Regions from separate parts of the Homo sapiens genome. Here regions 2 and 3 are each linked to region 1. Evidence: fine-mapped expression QTL. A gene starts in region 1. Each other region holds a variant in brackets. All regions are shown on one strand. Distances are from middle to middle.

The links. PIP is the estimated chance that this variant, and not a neighbour inherited with it, causes the effect. A credible set is the group of variants that fine-mapping cannot tell apart.
Region 2: its variant is the best candidate, but not a certain one, in a credible set for the expression of ANO7 in esophagus mucosa (GTEx, PIP 0.72).
Region 3: its variant is the best candidate, but not a certain one, in a credible set for the expression of ANO7 in substantia nigra (GTEx, PIP 0.83).

Annotation. Positions count from the first base shown.
Region 1 is chr2:241,185,301-241,191,292 of GRCh38, forward strand. It overlaps ANO7 (anoctamin 7), which reads left to right and starts at 3,377. Exons shown (of 25, transcript NM_001370694.2): 1 at 3,377-3,466; 2 at 4,757-4,871; 3 at 5,894-5,951. The coding sequence starts at 4,764. LOC105373971 (a long non-coding RNA gene) reads right to left here and starts at 3,122. Exons shown (of 3, transcript XR_924064.3): 1 at 2,976-3,122; 2 at 664-808. RefSeq lists enhancers at 929-1,451, 2,647-3,331, 3,332-4,015, 4,949-5,449, 5,450-5,950.
Region 2 is chr2:241,210,007-241,215,998 of GRCh38, forward strand. ANO7 (anoctamin 7) reads left to right here. Exons shown (of 25, transcript NM_001370694.2): 14 at 289-387; 15 at 462-564; 16 at 2,088-2,199; 17 at 2,566-2,620; 18 at 4,799-4,896. Among named protein-coding and RNA genes, the nearest start is that of ANO7, 24 kb to the left of the region's middle. RefSeq lists an enhancer at 3,094-3,653. The variant C/G (reference allele first, on the strand shown) is at 2,370.
Region 3 is chr2:241,408,535-241,414,526 of GRCh38, forward strand. FARP2 (FERM, ARH/RhoGEF and pleckstrin domain protein 2) reads left to right here. Exons shown (of 27, transcript NM_014808.4): 6 at 2,499-2,596; 7 at 4,773-4,887. Among named protein-coding and RNA genes, the nearest start is that of FARP2, 55 kb to the left of the region's middle. The variant A/G (reference allele first, on the strand shown) is at 2,988.

The DNA of each region.
Region 1 (5,992 bases):
AAACTTAGCCGGGCGTGGTGGCAGCCACCTGTAGTCCCAGCTACTCGGGAGGCTAAGGTGGCAGAATCGCTTGAACCCGGGAGGCAGAGGTTGCAGTGAACTGAGATCTCGCCACTAGCACTCCAGCCTGGGCGACAGAGTGAGACCCTGTCTCACACCCCCAAAAAAGAAAAAAGAATGTGGGAAGGCGGATATGTGAGCTAGCAGTAGAGAAAACTCCCCAAGGCCGGGTGCGGTGGCTCATGCCTGTAATCCCAGCACTTTGGGAGGCCGAGGTGGGCAGATCACAAGGTCAGGAGTTCGAGACCAGCCTGGCCAACATAGTGAAACCCCGTCTCTACTAAAAATACAAAAAATTAGCCGGGCATGGTGGCAGGCACCTGTAATCCCAGCTACTCGAGGAGGCTGAAGCAAGAGAATTGCTTGAACCCAGGAGGTGGAGGTTGCAGTGAGCTGAGATTGCGCCATTGCACCCCAGCCTGGCCAACAGAGCAAGACTCTATCTCGAAAAAAAAACTCCACAAACACAACTGTAAGACAAGATTTTGATGGGTTTATTTACATAAAATTTTACATAGAACAAAAATAATGAATAATACCTGAATAATGGCAACAGTAGATTAAGAGAAGGCGTTTGCAGCTTTTAAAACTGGCAAGGCTTACCATTTAGAACTCCCACACATCAAATAAAGGAGACAGGAATCCTGACGGAAACGCAGGCCAAGGGCCAGAGTGGGCAACTCAGACACCAGGGGCCAGTGGCCTGTGTGGAGCCGCCGCTCACAGGAAGCTGGGCTGCTGGCTGCACCTGCAGACAGGAAGGTTAGAAAGCGGGCAGTGCAGGCATCCAAGAGTCTGTCCCCTGCGACCCAGCCACCGTCCGTCCAGCAGGGCTCCCATGTGGCTGGGGCGCAGTGCCAGGGTCCTCATGGAGGGAGCCCTGCACGCGCCTCCAGCCTCAGAAGGAGCCTCAGAAAGAGGCTGAACTTCAGTGTGGGCTCTTCACCACCACTTCCACCTCCACTAACTACACCCTAAGTATGTCCATAAATGTTACAGCCAGCCGGGCACGGTGGCTCACGCCTGGAATCCCAGCACTTTGGGAGGCCGAGGCGGGCGGATCACGAGGTCAGGAGATCAAGACCATCCTGGCTAACAAGGTGAAACCCCGTCTCTACTAAAAATATAAAAAATTAGCCGGGCGTGGTGGCGGGCGCCTGTAGTCCCAGCTACTCCGGAGGCTGAGCCAGGAGAATGGCATGAACCCGGGAGGCAGAGCTTGCAGTGAGCCGAGATGGCGCCATTGCACTCCAGCCTGGGCGACAGAGCGAGACTCCGTCTCAAAAAAAAAAATGTTACAGCCAAAGAAAGATGGTGCAGCAGATTCTGGGCCTGGGCTCTTCCCAAGGCCTGGAACCTGGCGGGCCCCCTGTGCTGGTTGCGGCTTTTCTCCCTCCCTCCCTTCCTTCCTTTCCCTCAGAAGTAACACAACTTGAAAAAACCACCCACCCAAACAGAGTTGTATGAAGTAAAAATGGAAAGACACTCCTCAGGGCCGAACCCCCTTTAGGTGTTGTGCGTGCACTGTCGCTGAAAGGGCTCCCACTGGGGTGTGGTCACCTCCAGCAGCCGGCCCTGAAGCTCTTGAGTAGACAGCCCTGAGGCCACCAGAGCCACTTTGTCACCAAGAGCAGAGAGCCAGGAGCTCCTGGGAGGTGGCATGTCTTCCTGGGAGGGTCCTTGGCCAATGACTGAGCAGAGTAAGAGCCTACAGTTGCATCCAGGTGAGGAAACGCTTCGTCTTGCCTCCCCTGCAGAGTGCCCATGGCAGGCTGAGGCCACCCTCCACAGGTCTTGGGGAGATGGTGCCCCGCTCATCCTCCCTCCCCTCCTGCCTCCCGACTCCTTTCCTGGTTTCTGGAGCACTTCCCCAGTCCAGCCCTCGTCCAGGGATCCACCTCAGGCGCCTGCAGGCTGAGCTTGGCCAAGCAGAGACCTCTCATGCAGATGCCCTGAGGCCCAGGGCCCCAAGGTCCTGCCGCCCAGGCTCTGCTGGTGCTGACAGGGAACCCGGCCTGCAGGGCCTTCCCGCTGTTCCGAGGCACAACACAGGTCCAAGAACAGGGCCCCTTGGGAGGTGCCAAGCACAGAGGGGCATAGGTATAAGGGAAAGCTGCAGCCAGGATGAGGGTCCGCCTGGAGGGATTTCAACAGGCAGAAGGGGGCACCTGGAACAGCAAGCTGAGCTTGGGGCTCCCCAGTGCAGTTGTGCATGGAGGGCGAGGAGCACGGGTGGTAGGTTCTCAGACACTGCCAGGCACCAAGGAGGAAAGGGGGAGGGGGAGGGAGAGGGGAAGAGGAGGGGCGGGGAGAAAGGATAGGAGGAGAAGGAGGAGGAGAGGGAGAAGTGGGGGGAGGGGGAGAAACAGGAGGAGGGGAGTGGGGAGAAAGGAGGAGAAGGAAGAGGAGAGGGAGAAGTGGGGGGGAGGGGGAGAAACGATAGGAGGAGGGGGAGTGGGGAGAAAGAGGAGGAGGAGGAGGAGTTGGGGGGAGAAATGATAGGAGGAGAGGGAGAGGGGAGAACGGATAGGAGGAGAAGGAGAGGGAGGAGTAGGGGGGAGAAACAATAGGAGGAGAAGGAGGAGAGGGAAGGTGGGGAGAAAGGATAGGAGGAGGGGGAGAAAGGAGGAGGGGGAGGAGGGCTAGGAGGAGAAAGAGGAGGGCTAGGAGGAGAATGAGGACGAGGAGGAGGGCGGAAAGGATGGGAGGAAGGCTAGGACCCCTCCTGTCCTTTTGCAGATGGGGCCCTGAGCATGGGATGTGCCTGAGGTCACCCCTCAGGCATTAGCAGAGCCAGCAGTGTGATCTGGGTCTCCCAATCTCCCCAGCCCCCGGGTGAAACCCTGGCCCACCACTCAGCACATGCTACGTAACCTCAAGGAGCCTCAGTTTCCCCCCACATAAACAGAGCTTACGAGGTCTGCCTGGCAAGGCTTCCAGCAGAGGTGGCACTTGTGGCTGTTCCTGTGGAATCCCACCTCCTCGAGACCCTCCAAGGCAGCAACTATGACAGCTGATGCCAGCCCTGAAATCTCTAAGCAAATAAGGTTCCCAGGAGGACGGCAGCATTTGCATGCGGGTGTGTGAAAGCCCAGCCAAGTGGGCTGCCTCTGTCTGCAGCTCTGAGCCCCACACCCCCTATTTAAACAAAGATAGATCCTGCTCCAGGAGCCGGGAAGCCTTGCCCTGGCCAGCTGTGCTGGGCACCTCCCCTGCCTGCTTCCTGGCCCACTTGCAGGCAAGGTGAGGGCATGCGAATGGCTGCCACTGCCTGGGCGGGGCTCCAAGGGCCACCCCTCCCCACCCTCTGTCCCGCAGTGAGGACGGGACTCTACTGCCGAGACCAGGCTCACGCTGAGAGGTGGGCCATGACCTCCGAGACCTCTTCCGGAAGCCACTGTGCCAGGTGGGGACCCAGCCTAGACGTGTGGGCCACAGGGAGAAGGTGGAGCGTTGGACTCTAGGGAGGCAGGGCGGCACCCCAGCCCACCGGGACTTTCACACACCCTGGCCTGTGGGGAGGCAGTGCCAGGGCCCGCCCTGGTCCCCAAAGCCCCTTGGGGCACGAGGAGGGACACACACTCAGTGCGGCTCTGGACGGGGTACACCCAGCTGGGGTTGGCTTCCTGCCTGCCCAGGGGCTCCCCCATGGAGCAGGTCCCTTCGTTGGGGTGGGGGGCATCCCCATTCTTTCTGCAGAGAGCTCTGAGGAGGGGCCCGCCTGCCCACCACAGAAGGATGGGGGCATGAGGGGCTGCTGGGTGGCCGAAACTCCTCGGGGACTTTCCTCCAGGAACACCCCACAGTCCGTAGTGAGGCTCCCAGCCTGGGGCCGGGGCCGAGTCCTAACACTGAGACCTGGCTCGGGCTTCAGGGTTAGGCAGGTGCAGGCGGCCCAGGCTCAGTCTCTGTCCCTCTGGGCCTCCGCTAATGTGAAGTGAAGGGTAGAACTAGAAGGCTGCCCCTCCGACCTCCTGCGGCGCCTCCATGGTCACACCCTCCGGTCATCGTCGCAGCTCCAAATGCCAGCCCCAGCTCGAACCCTCTCCTTCCAGGGCCACAGATGTCGTGCTCCTGGCCCCGTTTTGCCAGCCCAAGACTAGGAGCCACGGCACCTGTCCTCCCACAGAGAGAGACCCCCGGGGCGAAGGTGCGGGAGGAAGCTGGGACCCCCAAGAGTTGTGAGGCCGGGCTCCATCAGGCCCGCCTTGCTGGGGAGCTCAGGGCCTATGGGTCCTGGCACTGGGTCCTCAGGCCATGAGCGAAGGCAGGCGACTTGAGGGGTTTCCTGTCCCTGGCTCACATGGCTCCACCCTACGGATAAGAGAGGGAGAGGTGTCTGTACTCCAGGCCCACCTTTCTGGGCCTTCTCAGGCTCCACTGAGTACCCAGGCAGAGTGGACGGCATTCAGGGCTGGGGGACACGGGCACTCACTGGATGGACAGACAGACGCCTGCTGTGCCAGGCCTGCCAGACGCTCCCGCCCCGGCACTGGTTTCTTCCTGGAGCTCGTGGCTGGCTAGGGGGTTCTCCATGTGCTCATGGCCAGGAGAGTCTGCCGAGCCAGCCCAGCCCCATTCTACTCCGAGTCGAGTCTGTAAAGTGAGCTCACTGCAGGCAGTGTGGTGGCCCCAGGAACGGGTCTCACCCATCCCCTCTCTGACCCCCATCCCCACCCGGCCTTGCTGGGTGCAGGAGCAGGATGCTGCGGCGACGGGCCCAGGAAGAGGACAGCACCGTCCTGATCGATGTGAGCCCCCCTGAGGCAGAGAAGAGGGGCTCTTACGGGAGCACAGCCCACGCCTCGGAGGTAACAGCACCCAGGAGACTGTGGTGCGACTTGAGAGGTCCTCCCCTGCCTGGGTCTATGCCCCCACCCTGGGCCCAGAGCCTCTGGGGGTGGATGGGCATCACCGTGTTTCTCCTGCATCCCCCGGCAACCCCCAAGCCCTCGCCACCCAGTCCTCAACACACACAGTCAGATCACCGCTCTCCTGGCCTGGCCTGGCTGTGGAGAACCGAGCAGAACCCACTGATGTTCAGACAGGAGCTCCAGGAGGGTAAGGGGGGCCTGGCCAGGCAAAGGCAAGACCAGGGCGGGGCCCTCCCTGTGGTGTCAGTCCCAGTCAGTGCAGGGCCACAGCAGCACCCAGGGCCATCTGTAGGGCTCCACCTTGTCACTAGGAGGCCATGGATGCGCTGTGAGCCTGTGGGGAGAGGCTGGGTCCCGGGCCTTCAAGGCCATGCGGGAGGCCCTGGCCGTGGAGGGCCCTCTTCCTGGTTCTCCTGGGCCACACGTCTGCCCCAGCAGCCTGCGGGTGGACACGGGACCCCTTCCTGCCGCCCCAAGCACAGCTGAGATGAGCCTCCAGGGAGGGCACAGGGCCTCTCACCTCAAGCATCCAGACACTCTCGGTCGCCATGGCCAACTCTGTCCTCAGGGCCCCTTTGGGAGCAGTCCGGCTCCCCTCTGCCCCTGGAGGCCAGCAAGGCAGGCACCCCTGGTCCTGGCCATGCTTCCCGCCAACCTGACCCTTGCCATGGGCCTGGCCCAAGGAGGAGGGGAGCCGGCTGGAGGCCCAGGGCTGGTGGTGCCCTCTGGCCCTGCCTGCCGCTCCCCGCGCCTGCGCATCCTGTGCCCCCACACAGCAGAGGGGCTTCCCCCTCCACCCCCTACCCACCCGCCGAACATTCTTCTGTGGTCCTGAGTGTTCTGGGGCAGGGCGGGGACGGGTTGGAGGCGAGGACGGCTTCAGGGTGGGGCGGGGTGGGTGTAGTTGTCGAGGGCAGATGCTGATGCTGATATGCTTCTCCATCCTCCATGCCTTCCAGCCAGGTGGACAGCAAGCGGCCGCCTGCAGAGCTGGGAGTCCTGCCAAGCCCCGGATCGGTGAGCCCCTCCCAGCACCTGTACCACACCCGTGTTGGTCC
Region 2 (5,992 bases), 25 kb after region 1:
GAATCCCCAATTCCTGGGATGGGATGGCTCTCCAACACTCACAGTGGCTGCCTTGACACCCAGATGTGGCCCAGCCTCTAACTCTAACCCCACCCCACCTCTGCCTGAGCAACTCATCAGGAAGGACATAGCCTGGGAGCACAGCCGGGGCTGGAGGCAGGGGCCTTCCTAGAGGTGGCAGTGCTGGGGCCAGCAGTGGACTAGAAGAGCTGTCGGGGGCCATGGCCTGAGGGTGCTGGGGTGCCCAAGACACCGTGAAGGGTCTCACGGGCCTCCCTGCCCCCGCAGGTGGCCGTGGTGGTCATGTGCCTCGTGTCTATCATCCTGTACCGTGCCATCATGGCCATCGTGGTGTCCAGGTCGGGCAACACCCTTCTCGCAGCCTGGGTGAGCCTCTGCTGCCTGCCTCGGGGGGCCCTGAGCGGCCCCTCATCCGGCTCTGACGGCCTGTCTCCCGTTAGGCCTCTCGCATCGCCAGCCTCACGGGGTCTGTAGTGAACCTCGTCTTCATCCTCATCCTCTCCAAGATCTATGTATCCCTGGCCCACGTCCTGACACGATGGGGTGAGTGGGCTGAGGCCGGCCAGGCACTGACCAGGGGCCCACCCTGCCGGCCGCCAGCCAGAACGTGACTTTCTCACTCACTGACACACATGGCCCTCATTTCTATTTCTTTCTTCTTTTTTCTTTTGAGACAGGATCTCACTCTGTTGCCCAAGCTGGAGTGCACTGGCACGATCATGGCTCACTGTAGCCTTGACCTCCCAGGCTCAAGGGATCCTCCTGCCTCAGCCTCCTCAGTACCTGGACCACTGTGCCCAGCTGAAATTTTTTTTTTTTTTGATAGAGACAGGGGTCTCACTGTGTGGCTCAGGCTGGTCTCGAGCTCCTGGCCTCAAGGGATCCTCCTGCCTAGGCCTCTCAAAGTGCTGGGATTACAGGCATGAGCCACAGCACCTGGTTTTCTTTCTCTTATTTTTTGTTTTTGGCACCCCAGGTGGGACACAAACAATCCCTGGGTTAGGAAGCCAGTGCTCCCTATTTCTAAATGTGGTACAGATTGGAGTTGTCTGAGCCTCCCCAGAGGCCCCCTTAAAAGAGCAGTGAGCAGGGCCTTCCTGGAGATAAAAGACCCTGGGGGCACTCCAGCACCCAAAGAGTTCTCACCCCTCCACAGGGCCCCCCTCCAGGCTGCAAGGTCCCCCAGGTGGGAGATGTCCCTCTAGGATAGGGCCGCTGAGCCTCTGTTGGGTGGTGTGGGGTATCGGCTGCTGGGCTGGGCAGCCACCTCTCAGTTCTTCCCTCCCCCTTCCTCTCCCATCGGTCTTTTTCTCTGTCTCATTTCCTGAGGACAAACACTTACGACCAACCTATTCATTCCATAAGCTGCTGCCTCTCACTAGCCCTGCTCTAGCCCTGGGGGTGAATAGTCTTGAACAAAAGCTGGCAGCCCCACCCTGGAGCCCAGGTTCTAGGAGAGGGGACAGAACTGGCTGCCTGCACAGCTACAGAGAATGGGAGAGGGCTTAAGTGCTGAGGAGGAAGTGCCTCCTGGTGGGTGGCCAGGGGAAGGTGGGTGTCAGGGAAAGACCTTTGCAGGTGGCAGGTGTCTCAGGGAGAGGTTCCTGGTTCTGGATGGCCAAGGGTAGGGCTCTGAGGGGAGCCACCCATTTGTTTCTGCAACTGTGGGGTTGCTGTGGGGTGTTGAGCCTCCCTCTTTCCCTCCTGTAACCTTCAGCCTTTGATGCTCCTGCCTCCGGCACCTGCACCGGAGCCCAGTCCGCTGCGCAGCCTTGGCACCGAGCCTCTATTCTGTTTCTCTGACCCATCCCCTGACCACTCACCCGTGTGCACCACATTCATTATTAGTGTTGGGATATAGGGTATTATCAATTTTCCCAACTCCTGTTAATCAACATGTTTTTGGGTGACTTCGGAAATGTCACACTTTGTCTCCTTCTTTTAAATATCTGGATGATATGGCCTTTTCCTCACCCGTGTGTGGCAAGGTGGTCCTAGGAGAGGGGGCCCCTAGTTGGATGCTGGTGACTCCCCCAGGGACTGAGCCCAGGCTCTCCATGCCACAGAAATGCACCGCACCCAGACCAAGTTCGAGGACGCCTTCACCCTCAAGGTGTTCATCTTCCAGTTCGTCAACTTCTACTCCTCACCCGTCTACATTGCCTTCTTCAAGGGCAGGTTGGTGGGCACCTCTCCCTCTGGCCACAGCTTGTCCCGGCTTAGTTCTGCTCATGTTTCCCGCTGCCTGGGTACCAGGCGTCATCCAGCCGTGCTCAGGCAGGTGGAGGACGGAACCGGAGACCCAGGCAGGGGACAGGGGCCCATGCCTCCTGGCACCTCTGAGCAAA[C/G]AGGGGCTGCCCACCTCTTGGTCCCTACCCAGCTCGGGGGTCCACAGGAGGCCCAGCTCACAACCGGGACTCTACGCCACAGTTCGTGCTTCCTCCAGGGCAGGTGCAGCAGCTCTGCTGAGGCCTCCAGAGCCCAGGGAAGTGGGAGGAGACAGGAAGGATCCCATCAAGGCTCATGATCTTGACTTTCTCCTAGGTTTGTGGGATACCCAGGCAACTACCACACCTTGTTTGGAGTCCGCAATGAGGAGGTGAGTGTGCCTGAGGCCCGGGACTGGGGGATGAGCTGTGTGCTTCCTCTCACTTCCATTCTTCCATTCGAGCTTTGATTTGCAGCAATTCCTCCCACCACCGGCTATTTCCATCGCCCAGCCAGGGCCAGCTGTGCAGCTGACCACTCAGGGCTCCCAGCCTCTCTTCACCACTTATTCTGACCCCCGATATGCCCCATTCAGAACCACACCAAAACACTCCAGGCCGGGCACAGTGGCTCACGCCTGTAATCTCAGCACTTAGGGAGGCTGAGGGAGGAGGATCGCTTAAGCCCAAGAGTACGAGACCAGCTTGGACAACATAGTGAGTCCTCATCGCCACAAAAATTAATAAAAAAGCAAACCAAAAACCCTACCCCACCCCAGCTGTCCCAGCCCGTATTACTCTTTCCCCATTTTAACCCAATTCACACCTGAGAAAAGTGTGAGCCATTACGGTGGGCGCAGAGCCTCTGGCACACAGGCCCGCAGAGGCTGGCCTCCTCATGGCACACGGCCCGCAGGGGCTGGCCTCCTCATGGCACACAGGCCCGCAGGGGCTGGCCTCCTCATGGCACACGGCCCGCAGGGGCTGGCCTCCTCATGGCACACAGGGGTCGCAGGGGCTGGCCTCCTCACAGGCTTGGCGTGCTGCCGCCATGGCTGTCAGGGATCTCCCTGTGGCCAGCTGTCCTCTCCCCATCAGCACAGTGGGCTCTGCCTGTGACTGTATCTCTAAGAGCCTTAGCTACTCCGTATCTCTGAGAGCCAGGCGTGAACCTGGTTTTTCAGAAAGCAAATGGAAGTTCACCTGGTGGAGGATGAAGCGTTGTTGTCACGGGGGTCCCTGCAAAGCAGACCCCAAGACAGAGATTCTGGTGCAAGTAACTGACGTGTGCATCACCCCAGAAGTAGTCTCCACTGTGCCACAGCCCCTCCAAGACACCGTAGAGAAGCCCTCAAAACTGTTCCCGACGCACAGCCCCTCCTGGGTGAGGGCCAGGCATGTCCCAGCAGCTGGGGTCGCAGGCAGCAGGGTGGGTGCATCTGGAGCCATCCACAGGTGGCCTCTGGGCTGGGCTGGGACCTAAGTGGACCCCTGCTGAGTGACCCCTGGCCTGAAAGACCTCTTCTCCTTTTGGAAGAGGAGGAGGAGGAGAGAAACTTCGCATGGGGTCTGGGCCATGAGCCAGCCCAACTGCAAAGTGGCTGCCCCCAAAGGGGTGGTGTCCATTTCATGTGAGAGGGGAAAGGGAAGGCTGGGGATGGAGTGGGGAGTGTGGCTGCGGGTGCCACAACGGACCAGCCAGAGGGCTCTCAATTGTTAAGTGGGAAAAGTTCCCAACTCAAACTGGCTTAAACGAAAAAGGGAGTTTTCGGCCAGGCGTGGTGGCTCATGCCTGTAATCCCAGCACTTTGGGAGGCCAAGGCAGGTGGATCATGAGGTCAGGAGTTCGAGAATAGCCTGGCCAATATGGTGAAATCCCGTCTCTACTAAAAATGCAAAAATTGGCCAGGCGTGATGGCACGCACCTGTAGTCTCAGCTACTCGGGAGGCTGAGGCAGAAGAATTGCTTGAACCCAGGAGGTGGAGGCTGCAGGGAGTTTTCTTGGCTCCTGTACTGAAAACGCTCAGGGCTACGCGGGCTTAGGTATGAATGATCCAGGTGTTAAAAATGCTGCACTGCTATTCCCAGCATTGCCTGTGTTCTCAGAAAGATTATCCCCATCTGGAGGGAAGGTGCCCTGCAGTGCGGCCGACACTCTCGGACTTAGCACCCCTTGCAAGGCACGTGTTCCCAGGAACTCCACCTCCCACTGGCTCGAACTGGGTCACCGATTGGTGGGGCCTGCCTCGTGGGTCTGTCTTGAAGCCAGAGGCTACAGTCAGCCCCATGTAACCCCTTGTGGGTCTCCAAAGGAAAACTGGGGTGCCATTAGGTACATATAGCAGTGCCCCCTGCAGCTTTCCAATGCAGTCTTCCAGCTGGACCTGGGGGCTCCTGTGAGGTCGGGAGGGAGTGTTATGGTGGGAGCATCTCTGCAACCCTCCAGGTGCCCAAGGCATGTCAGGAGGGAGGTGGGGGCCGGGATGAGGGCCAGCTTTGAGACAAGAAGGGATGCGTGGGTGAGTGGCTGGTCCCCCTCTCCCAGCTAACCTGAGCCCTGCTGCCGTAGTGCGCGGCTGGAGGCTGCCTGATCGAGCTGGCACAGGAGCTCCTGGTCATCATGGTGGGCAAGCAGGTCATCAACAACATGCAGGAGGTCCTCATCCCGTGAGTCCCCCACTCCTCCCTGGGTGGCATCCAAGGACCGAGGGACCCCAGAGCACCTGGCAGTAGCAGCCTCCAGCCCGGCCCTAGCTGGGAGAAGAGGTGAAGGGAAGGCACCTTGCCTGGGGAGGGGGAGGGGGAGTGTGCCCGGCCGTCTGCCCCGGGCTCTGGGCTGCCCGCCCTGCAGCTGCCCTGTGGCTGGCTGAGGTCTTCTGGGTTGTAGTTGTGGGAGACGCTACCCCTGGGACCAGCTTTGGCTGGGGAGGGGGTCTGGGCTCCTGGACCCAAGGCTGGGGTGATGGCTCTGTCCGTTCAGAGATGCTGCGGCTGGGCCAGAGTATTCCTTGGCATCCCCAGGCCCCAACGCAGCACAAGAGGGAGGAGGAAAAGGAGGTCCCAGGGTTGATCCTCAGACACACGTCTGCCTCAGATGCCCCTGCCAGGGACACCCTGACCACAAGGCTCCCATAGCCAGAGTCCTTCAAAGAGGCTGCCCAGGGCCTCGCCTCCCGCTCAAGGCCAGACTGACCTGAACGCCCTCCCAGCGCCCCCTGAACACCTGATCTGCCCCCAGAAGGCAGCTCCCAAATCAGCACTGACATTTCTGGGCCACCAGGAATAGCAGTTGGGAGATGGTGGCCATGCCACATCCCGAGAGATGGCCCTGCCTCTTGGAACTATTGGTGCTGTGAAACCACAAGACCATAAGGTGCAGGGTGGAGCTCTGTGCCTGGCAGGAGCAGGGCACGGATGAGTGACAGTGTGATAAGGCAACATGCACACATGCCCCTGTGTAGGACGAACCCAACACGTGGGCCTCCACATCTGCTTTCCCTGGGACACCACAGTCGTCCTCGTCCACTCCCTCCCAACCTTGGCAGAGCTCTTGGCACTGCTTTGCAATTCCGGGAGGAGCCCATTACCCCTAAAGCCTTAAGGAACAATGCGGGGGGCTGGGCGGGTGGACTGCCCTCCCACATCTGACCAACAGACACAGACGCTTTCACTGAGTCCGATCTGCAAAGCTGTTGGCTCTCACTGCGTCCACCCCTCAGCCCCAGACCCCATCCCTCCCTGCTGCCCTTCAATTGCAAAGCAA
Region 3 (5,992 bases), 220 kb after region 1:
CTGTCTCAAAAAAAAAAAAAAAGAAAATATTAACAATTGTTTCATCTGGACAGTAAGGTTATGGAAGGTTTTTCTTTGTATTTTTTGTATTTGTTCACATATCAATTATATTATGAAGAATAGAGGAATAACCTAAAAAGCAACTGAAAACCCAAAATTAGATATAAAAGAGAACTATGATGTTGTAGTGGTATCAATAACTTTTTTGCCTTCTGGCTAAAAGTGTACTCATAAATGAATCAGATGTCTTATGAACTCTCTTTTAAAGGTTTCTGCATATCATTTTAGCAACACAAAATCGTAGAATGTCAGCTGCAAGGAAATGGAGAGACCACATTAGTTCACCCTCTTATTTTTAAAGGTTTAGGAAACTCCAAAGATGGCAAAAAGTATTTTTATGAGTGACCATAGATCTTAATAGTGTATTAAATGCCTGACATTTACCAAAAAAAAAGTCTCTTTTGAGGGAATCACTTTTAAATAGAGATAGATAGATAGATAGATGATAGATAGATAGATAGATAGATAGATAGATAGATAGATACCTGAAAATGATGGATAACAAAGTGTCCCCTCATTCAGGATCCTGGGTCTCAAGTTCTAGGACTCATGCTGATAACTCAGTATTATAGTTACTCCCTTCTCCCCCATATTTATGTGGAGGATTCTTTTTTCTGTTTATAAAAATGTACATGTTTGTGGTAAAAGAATTTTTTTTCCAAATAAAGCTAAGGGCCAGGTGCAACGGCTCACACCTGTAATTCCAGCACTTCAGGACGCCAAGGTGGGGGGATCAGTTGAGCTCAGGAGTTCAAGACCAGCCTAGGCAACATGGGGAGACCTCATCTCTACAAAATATCAAAAAATTAGCCAGGCATGGTGGCATGCACCTGTAGTCCAGCTACTCTGGAGGCTGAGGCAGGAGTATCACTTGAGCCCAGGAGGTTGAGGCTGCAGTGAGCTGTGGTAGCGCCACTGCACTCCAGCCTGGGCAATAGAGTGAGAGCCTGTCTCAAAAAAAATAAGTAAACAAAGATAAGTAAAAAGTAAAAGTTCTCCATTTACTCAGCACCTTATTCTCCGCATAAGTACGTATCTTTCAGATGAAAGCATAGATGTGCAATAAACACATAGATATCAGAACTTTAAAGAAATTACAAATGTTATAAAACAATATCAAATGATACGTATTGAACTGTAGGTTGATTTTTCCCCCCACTTATTAAGCATGCTGTGGACATTTTTCCATATCGTATATAAAAATATACTAAATTAGGCTGTAACATAATTTCATCATTCTCATATTCATCCATATTTCCAATATTTCTCTGTTATAATGCTGCAGAGAAACATTGTTCACATACCTTTGTGAACTATGGGAATATTAGTCTAGGAAAGTTTGTAGAAATGGAATTGCTGTGTTAAAGGGTATGTACATCCTGAATTTTAAGAGAATGTGGTAAATTTTAATATTGTGCACTGGGGCATGAATTCCACTAGGGACAGGGGGTTGGTCTTGCTTACCTTTGCATTTCCAGCTCCCAGAACAGTACCTAGAACGTAATTCACGCTCAGTAATTATTTGCTGATGGAATAAATGAACATATAAATATTTTCAATTGCCTTCTCTCATTACATTCTCACTAATGGTATTCCAAAGTGCCTGTTTCTCAGATCCTAGCCAAGACCAGATATTATCAATCCGTTAAAAAATTTCACAGCCATGCTTTAAGCTGTGTTTTCATTGGATATTTCTCCTATTTCATCCAAAACTGTGAGTGCAGTTTTATGTGACTAACAGAAGTAATGTGAATTTGTGACCTTCCTCCTTGAAGGTATGGCTGCAGATGTGTAATTATATGTGGGTAGATGGTATGCCTGAAAAGGCTAATTTCTTTCTTTTTTTTTTTTTTCGAGACAGAGTTTCGCTCTTGTTGCCTAACATGGAGTGCAGTGGCATGATCTCAGCTCACTGCAACCTCTGCATCCGGGTTCAGGCGATTCTCCTGCCTCAGCCTCCCAAGTAGCTGGGATTACAGGTGTGCACACCACGCCCAGGTGGTTTTTGCACTTTTTTTAGAGACAGGGTTTCACAGTGTTGGTCAGGCTGGTCTCGAACTCCTGACCTCAGGTGATCCACCCGCCCCAGCCTCCCAAAGTGCTGGGATTACAGGCGGGAGCCATCGCCCCTGGCCAATTTCTTTTTTTTATTGTTCACATCAGAGTGCCTTAGTGTGTTCAGCACTTCCTTTGCGCTCTCCCATGTGTGTGACTCAGTCTGCTGAGTTGGTTTATCATCTGACCTTCACTTGGTGACTGTTTGTTTCATGAAAGGCCTTTTGTGACTTTGCTGTTTCGTGACCGCCTTGCGTTTTGCTCACTGTTGGGTCACTGCCACTTCCCAGGGCTCATTTGCTGTCTTGCTGTGGAGACATGTCTATGTTACATTCAGAGAACATTTGGAATTGATCTCTGTCTTATTTTGAACTCTCTTCTAGATACTTGTTTGCCTTGCAACTTAAGAGAGACCTGCTGGAAGAGCGTTTGACCTGTGCTGACACCACAGCGGCCCTTCTCACGTCCCATCTCCTGCAGTGTGAGTATCTCCCCGCCAGCGGGGAGCATTCACTGACCATGGCACAGATATACCCGCACTCAGAACTACAATTAGTTGCTGATGTATTTGCCTAGTTAGTGAGCCTGACCATAGAATGAGGTGTTTCAACTTCAGTGTTTTTTATAAGCTACAGATTAACTTCTGTAAAGTGGAACTCCTTGAGGCAAATAGTTTCCACGTAGCAAACACAGGCCAAGGCCAAAATCTGTAGCCACGTTCCTTCTTTTGGGTTGTCTCTCATTTATGCCTTTGTGCATTTTACCAGCAATGCATATTCAGTCTAAGAGTCAGAATATAAACCAAACTCTGAGCAAACCCTGGAAAGGGCCTCACTGGGATAAAAGTTACAGTCCTCTCAGATTAGTAAAGC[A/G]TTAGCCATGAAGGAAAAAGAAGACATTTCTTCAGTATCTCACACAGATCAAGAGATGGTTCAGAACTGTGTCAAGAATTATAGTTACTTCAAAAATAAACCATGAGAAGTGTAAGAGGAGGTTCTGGCACCTTGCCGAGCCCCCAGCGATGGGAATAGAAAAACAGAAATACCCACATTGCTCCTGGACTAGAGGTGGGACCACAGCTAGCACAGAACTAATGTTTCTGAAATTTGAATCCAGGAAATATGACATAGAAAGTTCCAAAATTTTAGGAATTAATAAGTATATAGGTTATTTGCAGCTTCCTTGGTCCTTCCCCAGACATACCTTCTTCAAATAATAAATTTTATTATGGGTTTGCTATCCTCCACCAGGGGACGTGTTGATTAATAAAAGTTTTCAAAGTGACTTTGGTTCTTACTCATTTGGCTGAAAGACTTCTCAGGTAGACACATGGCAACGAATGCAATGTATGACTGAACCAGATCTTTTTGCTATAAAAAACATAATTGGGCAGTTGGTAAAATATGACTAGGGTCCACATCTGGGATGGAGCCTCAGATCGTGGCCCTGTTCCTGATCTGGGTAGTTTTACAAGGCTGCGGGTAAGAATATTGTATTAGTCCATTTCCACACTGCTGATAGAGATGTGGCGGCAGCGAGAGAGGCTTGTACAGGGAAATGGCCCCTTGTAAAATCATCAGATCTCATGAAAGTCTCACTATTACAAGAACAGCACGGAAAAGATCCGCCCCCATGAGTCAGTTACCTCCCACTGGGTCCCTCCCACAGTAAGTGGGACTTGTGGGAGTTATAATTCAAGATGAGATTTGGGTGGGAACACAGCCAAACCGTATCAAATGTCATAGTTTATAGGAAGTCCATACTGAAGTATGGCAAGTAACATGTTAGCAACTCACTCTCAAATGGCTCAAAGGAGAAAAAACTCTTGTACTGTGCTTGTAACTTCTCTGTGAATATGAGATTGTCTAAAAATAAAAGCATATTGCTTTAAATTATTGAACTTTATGTTATTAAGACATTGTGGCCTTAAAATACATGAAATTAGACAGAGACATTATTCATCAAGAAATTTGAGAAGGTCTGAAGGAAAAAAATCATTTAAAATACATTATCCTAAAATAAATAAAATACTTCAGCCTGATCATGATAATCTTGAGACAATTTAGGTTTAAGGTGTAGTTTAAAAATAATAGTAGTCCAGGTGCAGTAGCTCATGCCTATATTCCCAGCACATTTGGGAGGCCAAGGCAGGAGGATTGCTTAAGTCCAGGAGTTTGAGACCAGCCTGGGCAATGTGGCAAAACCTTATCTCTACAAAAAATACAAAAATTAGCTGGGCATGATGGTGCTTACCTATAGTCCCAGCTACTTAGGAGGCTGAGGCGGGCAGATTGCTTGAGTCCAGAAGGTTGAGGCTGCAGTGAGTAGTGATTGCACCATTGCACTCCAGCCTGGTCAACAGAACGAGACCTTGTGTCAAAATAATAATAAACACATTAAACTCATCAATGTTTGCCTCCCTGGAGTTACTAATCAGGCCTTTGTTCTTCAAGAAATCCTCTTCACTTCCCATTATATTTGCCTTTTAACAGCATAAAATATTTGGAAAAATTAAATAAAAAATCTTGCTTTTTTAGGGATATATTCTTTTGCTACAAATTTGGGATAATTTTTTTTTACTTTTAATGTATGCAATGACACATACAAATGCTTGTAGTTTATTTAAAAATTAGTTACTTACTTTTAACCTATCTCAGCGGAAATAGGAGATTACGATGAAACGCTGGACCGAGAGCACCTCAAAGTGAACGAGTATTTGCCTGGCCAGCAGCACTGCCTTGAGAAGATACTAGAATTCCATCAGAAGCACGTGTAAGTCATCACAATTGTCTGTCAACACATTGTCACCACAGTAATGACTAAAGAGTGTGTAACGAGAAAGGACTGTTGTCGTGACTTCTGCAAGATTCTAACATAAGGACCATTGCTCCTGGCCTCAGGATGTGCAGCTGCTGCCAGAGGCAGCTTGGCAGACACACAGACACACAGGTGCCCTGGCCTGAAGCACCTTCACACCTGCACGATGTGCTGCTTTAGAAGGTGCTGGAAGAAGCCAGGCACGGTGGCTCATGCCTGTTATCCCAGCACCCTGGGAGGCTGAGGCAGGTGGATTGCCTGAGGTCAGGAGTTTGAGACCAGCCTGGCCAACATAGTGAGACCCCATCTCTACTAAAAATACAAAAAATTAGCTGGGCTAATGGCAGGCACCTGTAGTCCCAGCTACTCAGGAGGTGAGGCAGGAGAATCGCTTGAACCCAGGAGGTGGAGGTTACAGTGAGACAAGATCGTGCCACTACACTCCAGCCTGGCACCAGAGTGAAACTCCGTCTCAAAAAAAAAAAAAAAGGTGCTGGAAAAGACATCAGGGTCTGGGGGAGGAGGATGCTACTGAGCAGGATGGGGTGGCTATTGGGGGGGTGTCAGCTGCTGCAGTGTCTCTGCAGTGTGGCAGAAAGAGTCCTCTACGGGGAAGACACTGTGCTGTGGTAGAGGAGGAGGGGACTGTGTGAGGCTAACAGTGTCTGCCTGTGTCAGGGCATTGGGAATCGCCTGGCACCCATGGCCTTCATCTCATCTTGTTTTGATTTCTCTAAGACTTGACACTGGTGGGTTTTTCTGGATGGAAGTGATAGAGACCTAGAGAAGGAGTGCTAGCTAAGGGGAAAAGGATTGAAGAACGGTATGGGAAAGGGCTCTGGGCTCTGGCCCAGGTGGCTGGGAGCTTTAGTCACCAAAGGGGAGCACTCAGCTGGTGAAAGTGAGTCAGGAGGACTTAGCCTTGCCTTTGTGACACATCCTGTTGAGATGCAGGTTTGTTTGTCAGATCATGTATGTTCATGTGTGTCGTTAAGGCTCTACCGGGACCTGCTGGCAGCTGCCCTTTCACACCTTCAAAGTATGAGTGCCAGCTATGCAT